Linked DNA regions of Homo sapiens. The protein of the gene in region 4 purifies or fractionates together with the protein of the main gene of each other region. This does not show direct contact. Each region holds a gene or a part of one and is shown on either strand. Other genes may lie near its edges.

Region 1 (4,925 bases), on a different chromosome or scaffold from region 4:
GGGTCGGATTCCACGGGATGAAAACTGCAGAGCACAGTTTGTTGTCACAAAGCTGGAGAGACACAGAGACAGAATAGGTCCTGGATAGCACCTGCTCTCAGCTGTTCTGTTACTTCCTCTCTGCCTGGCTAAGACCTCACTTACTGTCACGTCTATGCATCCCTGGGCCAGCTCCCAGTAAAAAAAAAAGCAGGAGGTCAGGCCTCTATCCACACAGAGGGGGAGGGTCCTAGCCAGAATCTTCCTAGTAACCTCCCGACTCCCCTCAGCCGCCCTAACTTTAGCTACAACCAAATAGGCACCTGACTGTCTGCATTCCTATGCCAGCAGATGCAACCCCACTCAAGTTAGAATGGATGGGGGCCGAGGAGTGCAAGTCAGAATCACCAACGGAGGGTCTCATATTAAGCAGTCCAAGACAGTGGTGCTCATACTGCACGCTGGAATCACCTGGCTCATCCACAAATCACGGCTGGTGGCTTCTTCGCCGGCATGCTGATTCCTTCAGTGTGGGCTTGGAGTGCTAAGTGTCCCAATGATTCCAATGTGCAGTAGAGTTTGAGAATCACTTACCTAGAGGACACCCCAGACCTATGGAACCAGAATTTCTGGGTGGAGGCATCAGTATATTTTTGGAGCTGCTGTGTGATTTCTGATGTACTAGTGACCACAGCTGGGTACTAGTGACAGAAACTACAGGCAAAGCGAGCACAGGAAACCGGTTCCCGAAAAGAGCCTCTGCAGTTTCTTTCCAAGGGAGTCCAGCCCCATCTTCTGGTTGAAAAGAGGTATTTCATTTTACTAACAGAAATTCACACTTCATTCAAGGTGCTGAAGGGTAAACTAACAGCTGGTTTCTTTAATAAAGAGCTCCACATCAATTGCCTAAGTTTCTTTCTCTCCTTTCTAAGCTCTGGAGGTGATGTTTATGCCATTAAAATAACAGTAGGCAGGCTCATTGGCTCACACCTGTAACCCCAGCACTTTGGGAGGCTGAGGAGGCAAATTGCTTCACCCCAGGAGTTCAAGGACAGCCTGGACAACATGACAAAACCCCCATCTCTACAAAAAAGACACAAAATTAGCCAGGTGTAGCGGCACGCCCTGTAGTCTCAGCGACTGAGGAGGAAGGAGCACTTGAGCCTGGACAGGTCTTTTTTTTTTTTTTTTTTTTTTGACGGAGTTTCGCTCGTCCAGGCTGGAGTGCAGTAGCGTGATCTTCTCAGCTCACTGCAACCTCCGCCTCCTGGATTCAAGTGATTCTCCTGCCTCAGCTTCCTGGGTAGCTGGGACTACAGGCGCCCACCACCATGTCCGGTTAATATTTTGTATTTTTAGTAGAGATGGGGTTTCACCATGTTGGCCAGACTGGTCTCGAATTCCTGCCCCCAGGTGATCCACCTGCCTCAGCCTCCCAAAGTGCTGGGATTATAGGCACGAGCCACTGTGCCCAGCCAACAGGTCGATATTTTTGATTTAAGATGGCTTATTCGGCCGTAACTCCATCGTAAATCAAGGAACATCTGCAACTTGATCCAAGGATTAGAGGACCGTGGTTAGCAGACATCCATAACTAACCTGGCCACTATATATTAAGAAACTGGGCTAGTAGGCCGGGCGCGGTGGCTCACGCCTGTAATCCCAGCACTTTGGGAAGCCGAGGTGGGTGGATCACAAGGTCAAGTGATTGAGACCATCCTGGCCAACATGGTGAAACCCCGTCTCTAGTAAAAATACAAAAATTAGCTAGGCGTGGTGGCATGTGCCTGTAGTTCCAGTTACTTGGGAGGCTGAGGCAGAATAGCTTGAACCTGGGAGGTGGAGGTTGCAGTGAGCCAAGACTGCGCCACTGCACTCCAGCCTGGTGACAGAGCAAGACTCCGTCTCAAACACAAAACAAAACAAACAAAAAAAAGAAGCTGGCATCCTTGGTCACACATCACCCCCTTGTTTATAAATCAGTTGTCCTTCCGTTTAAATCTGCTCAAGTCTAATAAGCTCTGAGTAGTAAAACTAAATTCAATTTCCAAACCTGTAAATGCTGATGATCAGTCCACCCCAAACTCTTGGTGACCACTCAATGAATAGACACTGAGGCTCAACCAGAACAAAACGGCCAAAAGATTTTGCTTAATGAAGTGTCTCCCAAGCTTGTGTGACCTTAAGAATCACCTGGGGCGCTTGAAACACCTAGATTCCCAGTCCCCTCCCTCATAAGACCCAAAGCAGCTTTTTTTCTTTTTTTTGAGACAGAGTCTCGGCTCTGTCGCCCAGGCTGGAGTGCAGTGGCACGATCTTGGCTCACTGCAACCTCTGCCTCCCGGGTTCAGGCAATTCTCCTGCCTCAGCCTCCCAAGTAGCTGGAATTACAGGTGCCCACCACCACGCCTGGCTAATTTTTGTATTTTTAGTAGAGACAGGGTTTCACCATGTTGGCCAGGCTTGTCTTGAACTCCTGACCTCAGGCGACCCGCCTGCCTTGGCCTCCCAAAGTGTTGGGATTACAGGCATGAGCCACCGCACCTGACCAGCATTTCTTTTTTCTTTTGAGAGAGGGTCTTGCTCTGTCACCTAGGCTGAAGTGCAGTGGTGTCATCATGGCTCACTGCAGCCTCGACCTCCTGGCCTCAAGCGATCCTCCCACCTCAGCATCCCAAGTAGCTGGGATTACAGGTGTGTGCTACCACACCTGGTTAATTTTTATATTTTTTGTAGAGTCAAGGTTTTGCCATGTTGCCTAGGCTGGTCTCAAACTCCTGAGCTCAAGTGATCGTCTCACCTGGCCTCCTAAAGTGCTGGGATTACAAGCATGAGCCACCACACCCTGCCCCCGAGGCGGCTTTTAACCAGCATCTGGGGTGACCAATCTAAGTAGACAGGGTCAGGACAACACTGATGTGTATACAGATGCTGTTTCCCTGCTGTTCTCTTCTAAGTATGAATCCCGGTCCCCTTTGCAGACCCAGTAGGTGAATCCAATTACGTAGAGCAGGGGACTGTGGAGCTGTGTTGTGAGCAGCACCCAGGTGATGCCCCATGGCAGCATGTCCCACATTCCTTCCATCTTTTAAAAAAAATTTTTCTCGGTGGCAGTCTTGCTCTGTCGCCTAGGCTGGGGTACAGTGGTGCAATCTCAGCTCATTGCAGCCTCAACCTCCCGGGTTCAAGCAATCCTCCCACCTTGGCCTCCCAAAGCCCTGGGATTGCAGGTGTGAGTCACATCGGCTCCTTTTCCTCTTCTTGTGTCTGGAAGCACTGCTTTTTTTTTTTTGAGACAGAGTCGCCCAGGCTGGAGTGCAGTGGCGCGATCTCGGCTCACTGCAAGCTCCGCCTCCTGGGTTCACGCCATTCTCCTGCCTCAGCCTCCCGAGTAGCTGGGACTAAAGGCGCCCGCCACCGCTCCCGGCTAATTCTTTGCATTTTTAGTAGAGACAGAGTTTCACCGTGTTAGCCAGGATGGTCTCGATCTCCTGATCTCGTGATCCACCCGCCTCGGCCTCCTAAAGTGCTGGGATTAGAGGCATGAGCCACCGTGCTCAGCCAGGAAGCACTGCTTTGGTGCCTAAGCGGCCTCCGCCTGCCCCACAGGCCACGTCCTCCTGTTTCGCAGGCTCTCTCCCAACTTCTCCTGCTCTCCCTACAACAGGCTGACCTGCAAGCCTGCCTGTGTTCTCTGCCCCATGCCCCACAGACAAACGACCAGACTAGTGGGCAGGGATTAGGTCAACCCCTGCAGAGCGTGGCAGGCACACAGATACATGTCTCATTGGAAGTGTAATAACTAACTTTTTTTTTTTTTTTGAGACAGTCTTGCTCTGCTGCTTAGGCTGGAGTACAGTGGTGTGATCTTGGATCATTGCAACCTCCGCCTCCTGGGTTCAAGAGATCCTCCCACCTCAGCCTCCCAAGTAGCTGGGACTACAGGCAAGCGCCACCATGCCTGGTTAATTTTTATATTTTTAGTAGAGGGGGTTTCGCCATGTTGGCCAGGCTGGTCTCGAACTCCTGTACATGTTTGTACATGTTTGTACAGCCTACAATACATGTTTGATAAGAAAGTTATTCATGCCACTGTGCCTGGGCACAGTGGCTCACACCTGTAATGCCAGCACTTTGGGAGGCCAAGGTGGGAGGATCACCTGAGGTCAGGAGTTAAGAGACCAGCCTGGCCAACAAGGAGAAACCCCAACTCTACAAAAATTAGTCAGGCATGGTGGTGCACACCTGTAGTCCCAGCTACTCAGGAGGGTCACCTGAGCCTGGGAGGTTGAGGGTGCAGTGAGCCAAGATTGCATCACTATTCTCCAGCCGGGGTGACAAAGTGAGACCTGTCTCAAAACAAAAAACATATACTCCAGGCTTGCTGAAGTGGCTCATGCTTCTAATCTCAGTGCTTTGGGAGGCCAAGGTGGGAGGACTGCTTGAATCCAGGAGCTTGAGACCAGCCTAGGCAACATAGAGATAACTTATCCCTAAAAAAAACTAAACAATGAGCCAGGCATGTTGGCACACGCCTGTAGTCCTAGTTTTTCGGGAGGCTGAGGGAGGAGGACTGCTTGACCCCAGGAGTTCAAGGCTGCAGTGGACTATGATCGGACTATTGCACTCTAGCCTAGGCAACAGAACAAAACCTCGTCTCTAACAAAAATAAAGTAAAATAAAATAGGCCAGGCGTGGTGGCTCACGCCTGTAATCTCACCACTTTGGGAGGCCGAGGCAGGTGGATCACCTGAGGTCAGGAGTTCGAGACCAGCCTGACCAACATGGTGAAACCCCATCTCTATTAAAAATACAAAAATAGCTGGGTGTGGTGGCACACGCCTGTAGTCCCAGCTACTCGGAAGGTTGAGACAGGAGAATAGCTTGAACCCAGGAGGCAGAGGCTGCAGTGAGCCGAGATCACACCACCGCACTCCAGGCTGGGC
Region 2 (4,925 bases), on a different chromosome or scaffold from region 4:
TCACTGATTGGAGAGATACAAAATCCACACAAAAGTGTTTCTCACAGAAAAGTGTTTCTCACCCGGGCACGGTGGCTCATGCTTGTAATCCCAGCACTTTGGGAGGCTGAGGCGGGCGGATCACCTAAGGTCGGGAGTTCAAGATGAGCCTGACCAACATGGAGAAACACCATCTCTACTAAAAATAGAAAATTAGCTGGGCGTGGTGGTGCATGCCTGTAATCCCAGCTACTTGGGAGGCTGAGGCAGGAGAATCGCTTGAACCCGGGAGGAGGAGGTTGCAGTGAGCCGACAACATGCCACTGCACTCCAGCCTGGGCAACAAGAGCGAAACTCTCTCAAAAAAAAAAAAAAAAAGTGTTTCTCTACCTTTAACCATGAAAAACGAATGAAAAAGACCAAAGGGAGATTATTTGTTGGCAACAAGACTCATAAGAAACTATCCATTATTGGTGGATCATTTCAACTCCAACAACCTCCATGCATTCTTACTTTGTTATGTAAGATAAAATTCAGAGCAAAAGACACAGTATTAGACCTACTAGTGTACACACAGTGGTTTCTAAGCAGTACCATTCAAAGCAGGTTTCTAGATGTAAATTTCTCAAAAGAAAACTGAAAAGATACTATCACCCTTTCCTCATGAGCAATTAAATATAACTTCTTCCAGCTGTATAATACTCATACTTTCTGAAAAAGAATCTCCATTTCATAAATAATATCAACTTAAACCTTGCTACTTACCCAGAGAAAGTCCTTGTAAGCATAGTAATATAGCCAGTCATGGACCACCACATTCCAGGTTCTATAATAGTTGGAGTATGACGTGGAGTTCCACCAATCCTGAGGGAAAAAGTAAAGGTATAAAACTACACACACACACACACACACACACACACACACACACACACACACACACACACACATCCCACCCGAAAGCAAACCCCCCTGACTTCCCAAAGAACATATGTAACAGAAAAATCAAATTATACTGTGATAAACTGTTGGTTCATACACTGGTGACAGAAAAATCTTCAAAGGCATTTTGGTTATTAGTGTTGAATATGACATGAATTCTCATACTATATATGATTTAGTTCCTAGGTTCATACGGAACACATAGAATCATTTAAATCTAATGTTCATCTAAACAGCAATCAGTAAGCCCCACCCCCCTTACCCTACTAGAATGTCATGAGAAAATTCTATGGTCATGAAGACCAGAGAGAGTGCTAACACTAGAGAGCTGTTTGGTGGTTACCATAAATGGCAAAATTATCCAGGGTGAGATGGTGGCTACCTCAAAGTCCTGGTATCCCTATATATGCTTCTTGCTCCCAATATTAAGATCAGATGAATGAAATCAGGTATCTAAAATCTGCAATCCACACTTAAAGTTTCTTTGAGAAAAAAGGTGGTAGACTTGGAGTGTTGCCAAAAACAACTCAAAGAGAGCTTTAGGTAGGGTTAAAGAATGCTATGAGCCATTCTGACTCTAATTCTATAGCTTAATTCCAACTTTAGAAGCATAAGGATACTATCTGAAGCAAAATTAACACCTTTCAAAACTAAAGAGGGAAAAGTTATTTCCCTCATGAACTGCTCAATTGTCTTAAATGGAATAATTTGCTGAGGTCATTCCTACAGAACTAGACGGTCCATTTCAAATGAATGAACACTCAGGGAAGTCTCATGGTGTGCTCTGAACAAACAGTTTCCTACTGGAATCACCAATATATCCTTGCAGGATCCAGCAGAAACCATGTGCTTATGTTAAGGGAGCAGATATTAGAGACAGAAGAAAACACAAGGTTATGCTAGTTATATCTGTAACCGAATTTCAGAAAATACTGGCAAAACTTGTAGAAAAGAAAATTATTTCACAATGTTTGTGTGAAAGGCTGGTGACATTAGCCAACAATGTCAAAATACTAATAATGAAGAAGTTAATAAAATGTAAAAAGAAAGCTAAGTCTAAGTATATACTACCTTATAGAACATCCTGTCACCAAAGCGTAACATCTCAGCAAAGGCATTGAGCCAGCAGTGCAAAAAGGCAAAAAAAGTAAGGAAGAGAATCAGCACACCTAAAAATAAGATTAACAATATTAACAGTCTTTCCAAATAGCTCACATACCAAGCAACTAATTATATCACATCATTTTATTTAGCTGGGATTATTTTGTAAAATATAAGTTATTATTCCAGTTTACCCATTCCAGAGATGATATACTTTTGGAGTTAATTATCTTAATTTTAAAACAGTAACTTCCTTCAAAGTGGGTTCAACAAATGACATTACCCAGTCTGGTTTTTTTTTTTCTTTTTTGAGACAGAGTCCTGCTCTGTCACCCAGGCTGGAGTGCAGTGGCGCGATCTCGGCTCACTGCAACCTCTGCCTCCAGGGTTCAAGCAATTCTCCTGCCTCAGCCTCCCAAGTAGCTGGAACTACAGGCATGTACCACCACATCTGGCTAATTTTTTGTATTTTTAGTAGAGACCGGGTTTCACCATGTTGGCCAGGCAGGTCTCAATCTCCTGACCTTGTGATCTGCCCACCTCAGCCTCCCGAAGTGCTAGGATTACAGGCGTGAGCCATCGCGCCCAGCCTACCCAGTCTGTTTTTAAGAAATGCCTAAATATATGGCTTAACTTAGTACCCAAGGTCCTTTAAAAATCTGGCCCCCATACCCCCCTCTTAAACAATTGTTTAAAACTGGGAGAGATTTTGCCCCCTCTCCCCCACAGGACATTTGAAATTCTAGAGACTTTTTGTTTTTAAAAGACAGGGTTTCACTATGTTGCCCAGGCTGAACTTCAACTCCTGGGGCTCAAGTGATCCTCCCACCTCAGCCTCCAGAATAGCTGGGACTACCGGTGCAAGCTACTGCACCAGTGCTGTGACAATTGGAGGAGAGGGAGTGGTGCCACTGGTATCTAGTTGTTAGAGGCCAGGATGCTGCTGAACAGTTTATGCTACAATGCAGAAGAATGCCACTCCAAACAAAGAATTAACCAGTCCAAAATGTTAATAGTGACATGGTTAACATAGTGACATGGATAACATTCTAAACATATCTCCAGTGATTCTACCCTCTAAGTGTTGTAAACATTATCCACAACTGGGTTTATGCCATTCCAGAATGCTCCATGCCCTTGCATCCATCCCACTACCTAGAATGACCTTTCCACCAATTCTCTGCCAGGCAAATACCTACCTATTTTTCAATACCCAATATTAAATGTTATCTCTAATGTGAAACAAAGGCCATAAGCATTTTGTTTATCCTACTTATGTAGTACATATTACAATATATTGTAAAATATCCATTTATATGTCCATCTCTTTCACTCATTTATTGAAAAATATATATTTATAGAGCATCAACTATGTACCAGACAATATGAGAGAGACTGTGATTGGCTATAAAACACAATCCTTGAACTCAATAACTTTGCAGCTAGTGAGGAAGACACTCAAGTATGTAACACATATTCTATTTTAGGGACAGATACAGAGTTCATTCAAATAAGTCCTGGGGCTGGTGAGGGAGGGTTACTGGAAGAGGAATGCAAGAGAAGAAAAGAAAGGGAAGGTGATGACAGAAAACATTACCAACATTCAATGAGTAAAGAAAAGAGGAAAAGTAAGGGAAACTATAAAAGCTCCCAGACTGTAAAGATAATACATCTCTTGTTCACTTCTGAGTCCTCTGCACCTGGCATAGTACTAGGTACTCATATATCTCTATAATAGACAAAAAAATGCAATAAATATATTTAAGAAATCAAGGTATGGTCGGAAAGACAGGAGGAAAATAAGAAATAGTGGCAAAAGGCCAAGCATGGTGGCTCAAGCCTGTAACCCCAGCACTTTGAGAGGCTGAGACAGGAGGATAACTTGAGCCCAGGAGTTTGAGAATGGCCTGGGCAACATAGGGAGACCCCGTCTCTCCAAAAAATAAAAACTTAGCCAGGCATGGTGGCATGCACCTGTAGTCCCAGCTACTGAGGCGAGAGGATCACTCGAGCCCCAGAGGTCGAGGCTAGTAAGCCATGATGACACCACTGCATTCAGACTGGGTGACAAAGAGAGACCCGATTTCAAAAAAAAAAAAGGCAAGAAAACAGTGACAAGAGAGATTTAAAAATGTGGTCAGCAGCACCCAATGCTTCATGGAGGTCAACTTGGATAAGGGGTAAAGTACATCTTAATCCATCCACTGGATTAGAATATGGATTACTAGTAATTTCTACAAGTAATTTCTACAAGTTACTAGTAATTTCAACAAGGGGCATTTAAGTGGCTTGGTGGAATCAGGAGCAAGATTACAATGAACTTAATAGCGAACAGGAAGACACAGCATGAATGTGGACTGTCCACTGTCAGAGAAAGGCACAACTTGAGTGAAAGCCATAAGATGAAAGACTGACCTGAGACTGGATGAAGGATACTTCATTTATAAAGTAGATGCAAAAGAGGTCAAGATGGGCATAGATGTATAGAAGTTTAGATGAAAAAGTAGGCAAAGCAAAGGTGCTCATAGGCAATAGCTTTCTATTTACCTCGTGAATTTATGCATGACCAAATTAACAAGTACCCATGTTACCTGGCAAGATGGAGTTAAATACACATAGGACCAGAACACGAGCGCTGAAGGGCTCCTGTTTGATATTCCGAAACAAGGGGGCACAAAGCCTTTCAAAGATGTAGTACACATAGAAAAAGCAACCAAAGACCTGGAACATAACAGAGACAGAATTATAATAACGATGGCTTAATAAGATGGAAGGCGATTTTTTTCTCTCCAAAAGAAAGTACAGATGTGACCCTTACAGTAATGTTCGCATATGTATTCCATTTAACACTAGTATAGAAGACTGCTATAATCCTTCAGGGAGATTACTCAAGCCTAGTTTCTACC
Region 3 (4,925 bases), on a different chromosome or scaffold from region 4:
GGCTCACTGCAAGCTCTGCCTCCCGGGTTCACGCCATTCTCCTGCCTCAGCCTCCTGAGTAGCTGGGACTACAGGCGCCCACCACCACGCCTAGCTAATTTTTTTGTATTTTTAATAGAGACGGGGTTTCACGGTGTTAGCCAGGATGGTCTCGATCTCCTGACCTCGTGATCCGCCCGCCTTGGCCTCCCAAAGTGCTGGGATTACAGGCTTGAGCCACCACGCCCTGCCAGCTCACGCTTGTAAATCCCAGCACTTTGGGAGGCCAAGGCGGGTGGATCACCTGAGATCAGGAGTTCGAGACCAGCCTGACCAACATGGTGAAACTCCATCTCTACTAAAAACACAAAAATTTGCTGGGCGTGGTGGCAGGCACCTGTAGTCCCAGCTACTCCGGAGGCTGAGGCAGGAGCATCACTTGAACCCGAGAGGTGGAGGTTGCAGTGAGCCAAGATCGCACCATTACACTCCAGCCTGGGCAACAAGAGCGGAATTCCATCTCAAAAAAAAAAAAATTCTAAACTAGGGCACATCTCTTTACTACACCAGATAAAGGAACTGAAATATATTGTAATAGATAATTATGCATTCTCAAATTAATACTTACGATCACAATTTCAAATATCTAAGAAAGTTACTTTCTACAGTACTAAAAGGTACCAATCCTTTGTCATGCCTAAACAATAAGCTTAAAATAAAAATTCTATGCTTCTTGAAAAAATTAGTCTAAGACTATACAGAGATATTATTTGATAAAATGGTTGCATGAAATATAGCCCTATCTTGTGGTTTTGTGGTTTTTTTGGATTATATTTTTCACTGAGAGGTAACCCTCAAGCAGTACTAGAATCTTTTACTTTGAAATTCCCATGTAAATACTTAGTATTTTTATAGTCCTAACATCCACTTACAGCAGCATATTTCTTTTTTTTTTTTTGGAAACAGAGCCTTGCTCTGTCGCCTAGGCTGGAGTGCAGTAGCGTGATCTTGGCTCACTGCAACCTCCGCCTCCAGGGTTCAAGCGATTCTCCTGCCTCAGCCTCCCAAGTAGCTGGGACTACAGGCACACACCACTAAGCCTAGCTAATTTTTGTATTTTTAGTACAGACAGGGTTTCACCATATTGGCCAGGTTGGTCTCGAACTCCTGACCTTAGGTGATCCACCCACCTCAGCTTCCCAAAGTGCTGGGATTACAGATGTGAGCCACCACACCCCAGCCAAAGTAGTATATTTCACTTTAAGGTGCCACATAGATTGAACTTTTGAAAATTCTTAAGGTAATAATTTCACAAAAGAAAATTTAGTGTCTTTGGTCAGGCACGGTGGCTCACGCCTGTAATCTCAGCACTTTGGGAGGCTGAGGCAGGCAGATCATGAGGCCGGAGATCAAGACCATCCTGGCTAACACGGTGAAACCCCGTCTCTACTAAAAATACAAAAATTAGCCAGGCGTGGTGGCAGGTGCCTGTAGTCCCAGCTACTCGGGAAGCTGAGGCAGGAGAATGGCATGAACCCGGGAGGCGGAGCTTGCAGTGAGCTGAGATCGCACCACTGCACTCCAGCCTGGGTGACAGAGCCAGACTCCATCTCAAAAAAAAAAAGAAAGAAAATTTAGTGTCTTAACCAAAATTATTAAGTGTCAGGCTTAAGAGTCAGAATTTACAATTCTCATCTTAGGCTTTAATCAGATTTCTCTGTATCACTGAGATAGGTTCATGATGCATTAATCTAATTATGAGACCTGAAGCACACTCCTACCTGAATAGAATGGGACCAATATCCTGTGGTCCTTTTGGAAATCCCAAGAGTAGAAACAGCATGATGTGCATAGACTTTTGGCGAAGGCACCAACCACGAGCACCTGTGCAGAAAGTTGCTGGGTGCTGTCATGCTGGTGGCTACATAGAAAGGGATTAGACTCTGTACAAAGATTCCTTTAGAGGCATATTCATATTGCAAGGCTCTGCTGAAGTGGTCTAAATAAGCCTGTTGAGACAGAGGGGAGGAAAAGACTTTTAATTCTGGGTGAACTTGAAAATTCAGGAGAAAAAAAGACTTGCTTATTATCAATTCAGGAAAAAATACAGGATAAGCATATGTGAGTTGCTGACAAAGAGTTCAACAAATCAGACCAAACAACTGTTAATAAATGTTCTGTGGCATTAGGATTTCATCTTCCAGTAAGTAACATCTGACCTTAGAAGCAGAAAATGCAGCCAGCTGAGGAGTGGGTTTGCAGCAGGAGCCAGAAGAGATCGTGACGATGGCACCTTTCTTTCTCTCCACCATTCCCGGTAACACAACATGGACCATCAAACTAGCGGCGGCAATGTTCACATTTATGATGTCCCAGAGCTTGTCCTCGGACAGCTGAGTGAAATACTGCGGGTAGGGATAAAACACACCCACGTTATTTACCAAGATGCCAACGTCTTTGTCCTTCAGGGCTTCTCGAATTGGAAGGTAGATCTCACGACCGCTGCTGAAGTCCGCAACTATAATATCAGTTTCCACTTTGTACGTGTCGGCTATGTCTTTAGCAACAACCTGCAACTTCTCCTCGTTCCGACTAATCAGGATTATATTGAGACCTCGGCTTGCTAACTCTTCAGCGTAGGCTTTTCCAATCCCATCTGTTGCACCTAGGATGCAAGTCAGGAAAAGTGAGCATGTGTATTTCACGGTGTGACCCTTAAAATGGACCCAAAGTACCCCCTGTCAGGTTTAGTCAGAGAAAAATTCACACTAGAAATCAAGTCGGTTCTAGTATCTACAAGTCAAGGACACTGTTGCTGAATGAGGAATGTGAAGGGCGCATGCTATACACTCTCCCAGACATCCTGACACACGGACAGGGAGTTATTTTACATTCACCATATTGGTTAGGAGACACAGTAGGAATTTGTTTTCAAACTACTATCTGGCTTGAATGAGTGGCAGGAGGTGCTTTTCTGGGAAATCTTCATAAATTAAAATGAAATTCAAAATAGGTGAAGCATTTCTGAAAGTGGCAACACTTTCAAGACAATTTTAAAACAGAGAACAAAAAGGAAAAGCACATAGTAGGAAGTGGGTCTGGAGGAGGACTGGGAACAGGAGAGAGCAGAATAGGAAGGATACCAATCATGAGGCCAGTTCTTCCTAAGATGAGAGCAGTAAGAAAATGAAATGTGAACATAATCACGGCAGGAGCCATAAGTTTTATTTTTTTATCAGCATGTTCCCATAAAAACACCACATTAAATTCAATAGCTCCTTGAATAATGCATCCGACTTCACAGAAAAGATTATTTTGATTATAAAGTAGGTTACCGCTGACAACGGCCCATCTTCCATACTGCTTGATCAAGTCTGCTCTGCTCCCCAGGCGGGGGATAAAATGCAGCCTGATCAGGCTGTAAAAGTCACAGATGACAGTGATGCTTTTTCTGGCCGTATACCAGGCTCCAACCAAAGCTAGAGCTTCCATATAGCAATTGCAAGACCTGGCGATTTCCCTGTACAAGAGGTAGAAACTGTCAACAGCAGCCATGGCAACCTGCAGGGAGAGGGAAAGAGAGAGAGCCTCTTTGATTAATAAATTAAAGGAACATACACAGTCTGAGTGAAGACATCCAGCTGAGGGCATCAGATCTTGTCAATTGTACGTTCAAATAACACTAACTTTTCAAATGTACGTGGCTCACAGTTTCAGTCTATCTATCTATCTATCTATCTATCTATCTATCTATCTATCTATCTATCAGACAGAGTCTCACCCTGTCGCCCAGGCTGGAGTGCAGTGGTGCGATTTTGGCTCACTGCAACCTCCACCTCCCGGGTTCAAGCGATTCTCCTGCCTCAGCCTCCCAAGTAGCTGGGACTACAGGCACATGCCACCACGCCCGGCTAATTTTTTTTTTTTTTTTTGAGACGGAGTCTCGCTGTCGCCCAGGCTGGAGTGCAGTGGCGCAATCTCGGCTCACTGCAGGCTCCGCCCCCTGGGGTTCACGCCATTCTCCTGCCTCAGCCTCCGGAGTAGCTGGGACTACAGGCGCCCGCCACCTCGCCCGGCTAATTTTTTGTATTTTTAGTAGAGACAGGGTTTCACCGCGTTAGCCAGGATGGTCTCAAACTCCTGACCTCAGGTGATCCGCCACCCTTGGCCTCCCAAAGTGCTGGGATTACAGGTGTGAGCCACCATGCCTGGAGATTCAGCCAATTTATGATCTCACCATTTAACATCCGTAGCTTATAAAGTTACTTTCTTCCAAGGAGACTAATCAACATAACTACCAGAAGTTACCAAATTCCCACTAAAATTCAGGTACTACACTACATGCTGTGGCTACAGAGATAAACACAATATGCTCTGTGCCTGTAACATGCTCCTAGTCTAATAATAACAAACACAAAGCTTCTAATTCATACAGCAGAGGTACATGTATTTCTTTGCTTTATTCATAATCAGCAAGAATGGAGGACCTACTACCTGTGTAGGGACAAAGGAGATGAAACAGAGGTGGCACTAAGACATGGCCTTGGCCTCAAAAGCTTACAATCCACTGGAGACAAAACTCAGCTTTCAAAAACCTTTACATCAATTAAAAAAAAAATTTTTTTTAAAGAGATACCCTCCAAGCTTGGAAAAATGGCTTCTCAAATGACAATAGAGGGAGCACTCCTCCATCTTCTAACTTAATTTGTAACCATTATGTTGCCTGGTCTCTTACATTTGAGGAAAGAAAAGTCCAACACAACTCTGTTGAGTGTCCACATAGCAAGTATATACTAAGCACCTACTATGTTCTATGTACTGTGATTCAAAGGATTCACAGATGAACTAAATGACCGTCCCTAGGTGAAGACGCAGACATTTAACAAAATAATGTAAAATGCCACATGATGTGGTAGGTGTGTGCCTGCAATCAGAGATAACCCTGC
Region 4 (4,925 bases):
CCATAAAACTAGTGATAGGCAGAGATGAGGTCAGTCTCGGATCCTAGGATGGTCTCCTCCAAAATATATTTTATTTAATTAGGGGCCTTTATGGGGGGTGGCAGGAGAAAGGTTAGGGAGCTAGAGGTAGATGGGTGTGGGGGTGGGGGGGTAAACAAACTGACGAAGGGAACAAACAAGAGGAGAGATACGGACATTCTTCTGCCTCATTTGGAACTTGTCGGAGTACCAGTTCCCTTCTGCTGTAAAACCTGGGTGAAGAAGTGTTTGTGACTGTTACATCACACACAGGCATGGCCCAAGGAAGGCACTGCCATTCCTCAAATATCAAGCTGCTTCTTACCTTAGGGCCTCTGCACTTGTGGTTCCCTCTGAGAGGAATGCTCCCTTCCCCTCATATCACTTGGTTGACCCCTCCTACTACAAACGGCAAAAATGTCACCGTATGTGCCCTTGGCTTAGTCCCCGTTTTTGCCAGGGTGGTTCCTTCTTGTTAAATGTCTCCTCCTTAGTGAGTTCTCCCTGCTCAGCTGATTTAAAATAGTACTCTGCTCCCCTCACCCCTAATTCACTATCACAGTCTACTGGTTTTATCTTTTTTCTTTCATAGCATTTATCTGGTTTTGTTTATTGTCCTCCTTTCCCTGCTGCCCCAAGCTCAAATGCAAGTTGTACAAGAGTAGGACTTGTGTGTCTTAATTACACTGTCTCCCAGGATTTAGAACAAAAGCTGGAACACAGCGGGCACATGACAAGATTTTTGTTGAATGAATGAATGATAGTGAGGGAAAGGAAGAAATTCAAGATGACTACTAGATTTTGCGGGGGTGAGGCACAGCTGTGCTTAGCCAGGCGACTCCAAAGGAGAGCCTTTGAGCAGAAGGCCAGCCTGAGCCAAGGCCTGGAGGTCAGGAGTGGTGGATGGGTATGGGAAATGGGTTCTGGGGCAGGGTGGTGTGCTGGGGGCTTGCCTGGGATATGGCTGGAGAGGGAAGCAGGAGGTTTCTGTAGGAATTTTTAAAAGTTACCAGCATTTTTGTCCTAATGTGGAAGAAGCTCGTCACAGAATTATTTCAGGAAACTGCTTTTCTCCAAGCAAAATCTGGTAGTGGGAAGGAGGATGTAGATACTTCCTCATCAATGACTGCTGAAAAGATGCAGCGGCATTGTCAGTCACAGCGAGGCCCGGGTCGGGGCAGAGGCATCATTGCAGTCAGAGCTTGGCCCAAATGGAGGCCGCAGTGGCTTTGTTGCTCCAAATGACATGGTTTAGTTATTTTGATGGCCAAAGAGTATTCTTTGTGCATATACATTACAGTTTCTTGATCCCTTCATCTGTAGATGGACAGGAGATAAAGTTTTTGGAATCTCCATGCCTGAGATTAAAAGGTGTGGGACTTCCTCTACCAGGCTCATTTCCTTGGACCTAATATCCTCTGGGTTTCTTGGGTTTCTCCACATGGCTGTGGATGACAGGATTTCCCAAAGCTTTATGGCTGAAGCATATTCCATAGTGTATCTGTATGGTGGTTTCTTTATCCCTTCAGCTGTGGGTGGACAGGACAGGTCATTTACCATGATGTCCTCTAGGTTCAACAGTGTGGCTGCAAATGATGTAATTTCATTACATTTTTCTGGATGAAGAGTATTCCATTTGTGTATATATACTACAGTTTCTTTATCCCTTCATCTGCGGATGAACAGGTTTCTCCACATGGCTGCAAATGACAGGATTTCATCCACTTCTGTCGTGGAAGGGTATTCCATTCTGGATATATATTTCAGTTTTGTCATCCCTTCATCAAGGGATGAACAGGTTCAACTGTGTGGCTCCAGGTGATATGATTTCAGTATATGTGCACAGCTGAAGGGTATTCCATTGTGAATGAATACTACAGTTTCTGTATCCCTTCATCTGTGGATGAACAGGTCTCTCTCCACGTTGCTGGAAGTGGGGTGATGTCCTAAAGTTTGATGGCTGAAGAGTATTCCATTGTGCAAATATCCTGGAGTTTCTGTATTCCTTCATCTGTGGATGAACACGACTGCTTTACATTTGGCCTGTGCCAATGGCCATGTGGAAGTGGTCACTCTCCAGGTGAACTGAAAGTGCCAGACTGACATTGGTGACAAATGAAACAGGATGCCTTTGATGAAGGCTGTACATTGCCAAGAAGAGATTTGTGTCATCATTCTGCTAGAATGTGGCACCAACCCAGATCTTATGGATGTCTATAGCAACAATGCACTACACTATGCTGTGTATAATGAGAATACACTACTGGCAGAAAAACTGCCCTCACACCATGTGAATACTGAAGTGCTGAACAAGGATACTGAAGTGCTGAACAAGGATGCAAACACACCACTTTTACTTGCTATAGTTTGCAAAACACAGCAAAAGGTGGAATTTTAGTGAAGAAACAAGCAAATGTACATGCTGTTGATAGGTTGAAAAGAACAGCTCTCATGCCTGTTGTACATTATGGCTTGTCAGGTATAGTTAGCATTCTTCTTCAACAAAATATTGTCTTTACTCAAGAGTATGTATGAACAGACTGCAGATTATGCTATTTCTGGTGGTCTGACAAGCACTCACAACAAATTTTGCAACATTAAAAAAAAAAGATACTTGAAAATGGTCTTCAAAATGACAACCCAGAAGAAGCATCCAAGAAGAATGCAAGTTTGAAAACAGGAGGAGCAAGTGCAAAAGATTCTGGGAGTTCTGAAGCATCTGCATTCAGTATTTAAAAAAAAACTGTGTGTTGACTCATGGCCTAAACCAGATGATGAAGACTTGACTTTTACTACCAAGCAGTGTATCCCTGAGAGTGTTTCAAAGTCTTTACTTGGACCTTCATATAAAAAAGGAAAAAATATATAGTAAATGGAAAGGGAGAAGGGCCTCCTGAAAAACATCCTTCCCTAAAGCCTACCATGGAAATGAAAGATTCTGTTGTGAAGAAAGCAATAGAAAGGAAGAACGAACAAACATCCAAAGCAGAACAAGAAGTACAAGTGACATCAGAGGAAGAACAGGAAAAGCTTGAAAGTGAAAATAAACAGCCACAGGTTGAAGAAGCTAGAAAGAAGCACGAAAGTTAAAAAAAAAAAGTATCAAAAAAACGTATATGATAGTACATCTGCTGACGATGATGATAAATTAATTCAACAAAGAAAGAGTGGAAAAACTTACCATCAGCGATTTCCTAGGAAGGAGAACAAAGAGTATGCTAGGCCTGCAAAGAAAATGTCAAATGAAAAGAAAAAGGTCAAAAAGCAAACTCATTTAGAGATGAACCTGATGACTTAACTCGGCCCTCTGAAACAGCTTCAGAGGATCATGAGAAACCTTACCCTCATTGTAAGAAGTTTATGATGCTCATTAAGCAATATGGAATGGATTGTAATGATTCTCGTATCCTAATGGAAGTCCAGAATGCATTTCTTTCATGTGAAAAGTCACTGGACCTTAAAAAAAATTATCTGTGAACAACTTACACTAGACAATAAGAAATATGAAAACTGAGTTTAGTGTACTGAAGGAGCTATCCAAAACACAAGAAACGAAGTCACAGTTCAATATCAAAAAGTAGAATGGAAACAGGAACTCTACAGTTTGCAGCTTAGAAGAAGATGAGAAGAAATGCTAATATGTTATATGAAAAAATTAGGGAAGAGTTAGAAAGGAAAGTGGAGCAACATAGGAAAGAAGTTGAAGTAAAAGAACAGCTTAAACTGACTATCGGATCACTAGAAATAGAATTGAAGGCTTGAAGAAATACTTTAAGAAAAAAAAAGATCTGATGCATGAAAATTGCTTGTTGAAGAGAGATATTGCCTTTATTGTGTATGTAAGTATACACAATAAAAAATAGGAACCTCGAAAGGGAAAAAGGACATTGAAATTGTTAAAGAAATGAATGATGACCTTCAAGAGACTATAAAACTGAATGGAAAAACATTAACAAAAACAGTATCCCAGTATGGTCAACAGCTTAACGACCTCAAAACTGAGAATACAATGCTCAAGTCTAAACTGGAGAAGGAAAATCAAAACAAGGAAAGACTGGAAGCTGAAGTTGAGTCATTCCATGCTAGACTGGCTGCTGCTATAAGTGAGTGTGATCAAAGTGTGAAAACAAAAAGAGACCTAGAACTTGCTTTACAGAGAGCACAAGACGTTTCTTTACAAGAAAGAAAATGAGTTCTGATATTTCTGAACTAAAAGATAATAATGAGTTTTTAACTGAGCAACTTTCCGAAGCTCGAATTCAATACCCTAAAAAGTAAACTCCATGACACAAGAAATTCTCTCAGAGAAAAGGTTTTGGTTTTATAAAGTGTACAAAAGGACCTAAGCCAAGTAAATCCTTTGGAAAGTGGGACTACGTAGAGGAGAGAATATCTCAACTACAACATGAAAATCTGTTGCTTCAACAACTAGATGGTGCTCATAAGAAAGGGGATAATGAACAAAAGGTAATTAATATCCAAGGATGCTGTCTTGAGAGTGAAAAGGAAGGTCTTCTGCTAGAAGGGAAAAATAAGGAATTAATCAATGAATGCAATCATTTAAAAGACTGTTTCAGTATGAAAAAGAGAAAGCAGAAGGAGAAGTAAGTATCAAAAAAGATAAATATTTTCAAACTTCCAGAAGGAAAATTTAAAATATTTGGCTACGGCTACATGTTGAACCTAGTTGAATATAAAAATTAATAGACAAAAAATGTGTTTACCATACTGTATAATTCCATTTACATGAAACATCCGGAAAAGACAAATGTATAGATAGAAAGCAGACTGACATTTGTGCGGGGCTGGGGTTGGAAATGGGTAGTAACTGCTAATGTGCAAGAGGGGTCTTCTTGGAGTGATAGAGACGTTCTAAAGTTGCAGTGATGGTTGCATGACTCAATAAA

The links. The genes of interacting proteins can lie anywhere in the genome.
Region 1: the proteins of SAYSD1 (region 4) and DNAJC11 purify together in Homo sapiens (affinity purification with mass spectrometry; one large-scale study listed by BioGRID and IntAct). This does not show direct contact.
Region 2: the proteins of SAYSD1 (region 4) and SOAT1 purify together in Homo sapiens (affinity purification with mass spectrometry; one large-scale study listed by BioGRID and IntAct). This does not show direct contact.
Region 3: the proteins of SAYSD1 (region 4) and HSDL1 purify together in Homo sapiens (affinity purification with mass spectrometry; one large-scale study listed by BioGRID and IntAct). This does not show direct contact.

The regions. Positions count from the first base shown.
Region 1 is NC_000001.11:6,645,927-6,650,851, forward strand, and holds part of DNAJC11 (dnaJ homolog subfamily C member 11), read right to left. Parts: intron 53-4,925; coding exon 1-52.
Region 2 is NC_000001.11:179,344,762-179,349,686, reverse strand, and holds part of SOAT1 (sterol O-acyltransferase 1), read right to left. Parts: intron 4,741-4,925; coding exon 4,611-4,740; intron 2,088-4,610; coding exon 1,990-2,087; intron 844-1,989; coding exon 745-843; intron 1-744.
Region 3 is NC_000016.10:84,127,788-84,132,712, forward strand, and holds part of HSDL1 (inactive hydroxysteroid dehydrogenase-like protein 1), read right to left. Parts: intron 3,541-4,925; 5' UTR 3,535-3,540; coding exon 3,315-3,534; intron 2,645-3,314; coding exon 2,199-2,644; intron 1,989-2,198; coding exon 1,761-1,988; intron 1-1,760.
Region 4 is NC_000006.12:39,108,286-39,113,210, forward strand, and holds part of SAYSD1 (SAYSvFN domain-containing protein 1), read right to left. Parts: exon of another isoform or gene 1,035-4,925; coding exon of another isoform or gene 1,029-1,034; intron 1-1,028. UniProt on the Homo sapiens protein: Ufmylation 'reader' component of a translocation-associated quality control pathway, a mechanism that takes place when a ribosome has stalled during translation, and which is required to degrade clogged substrates.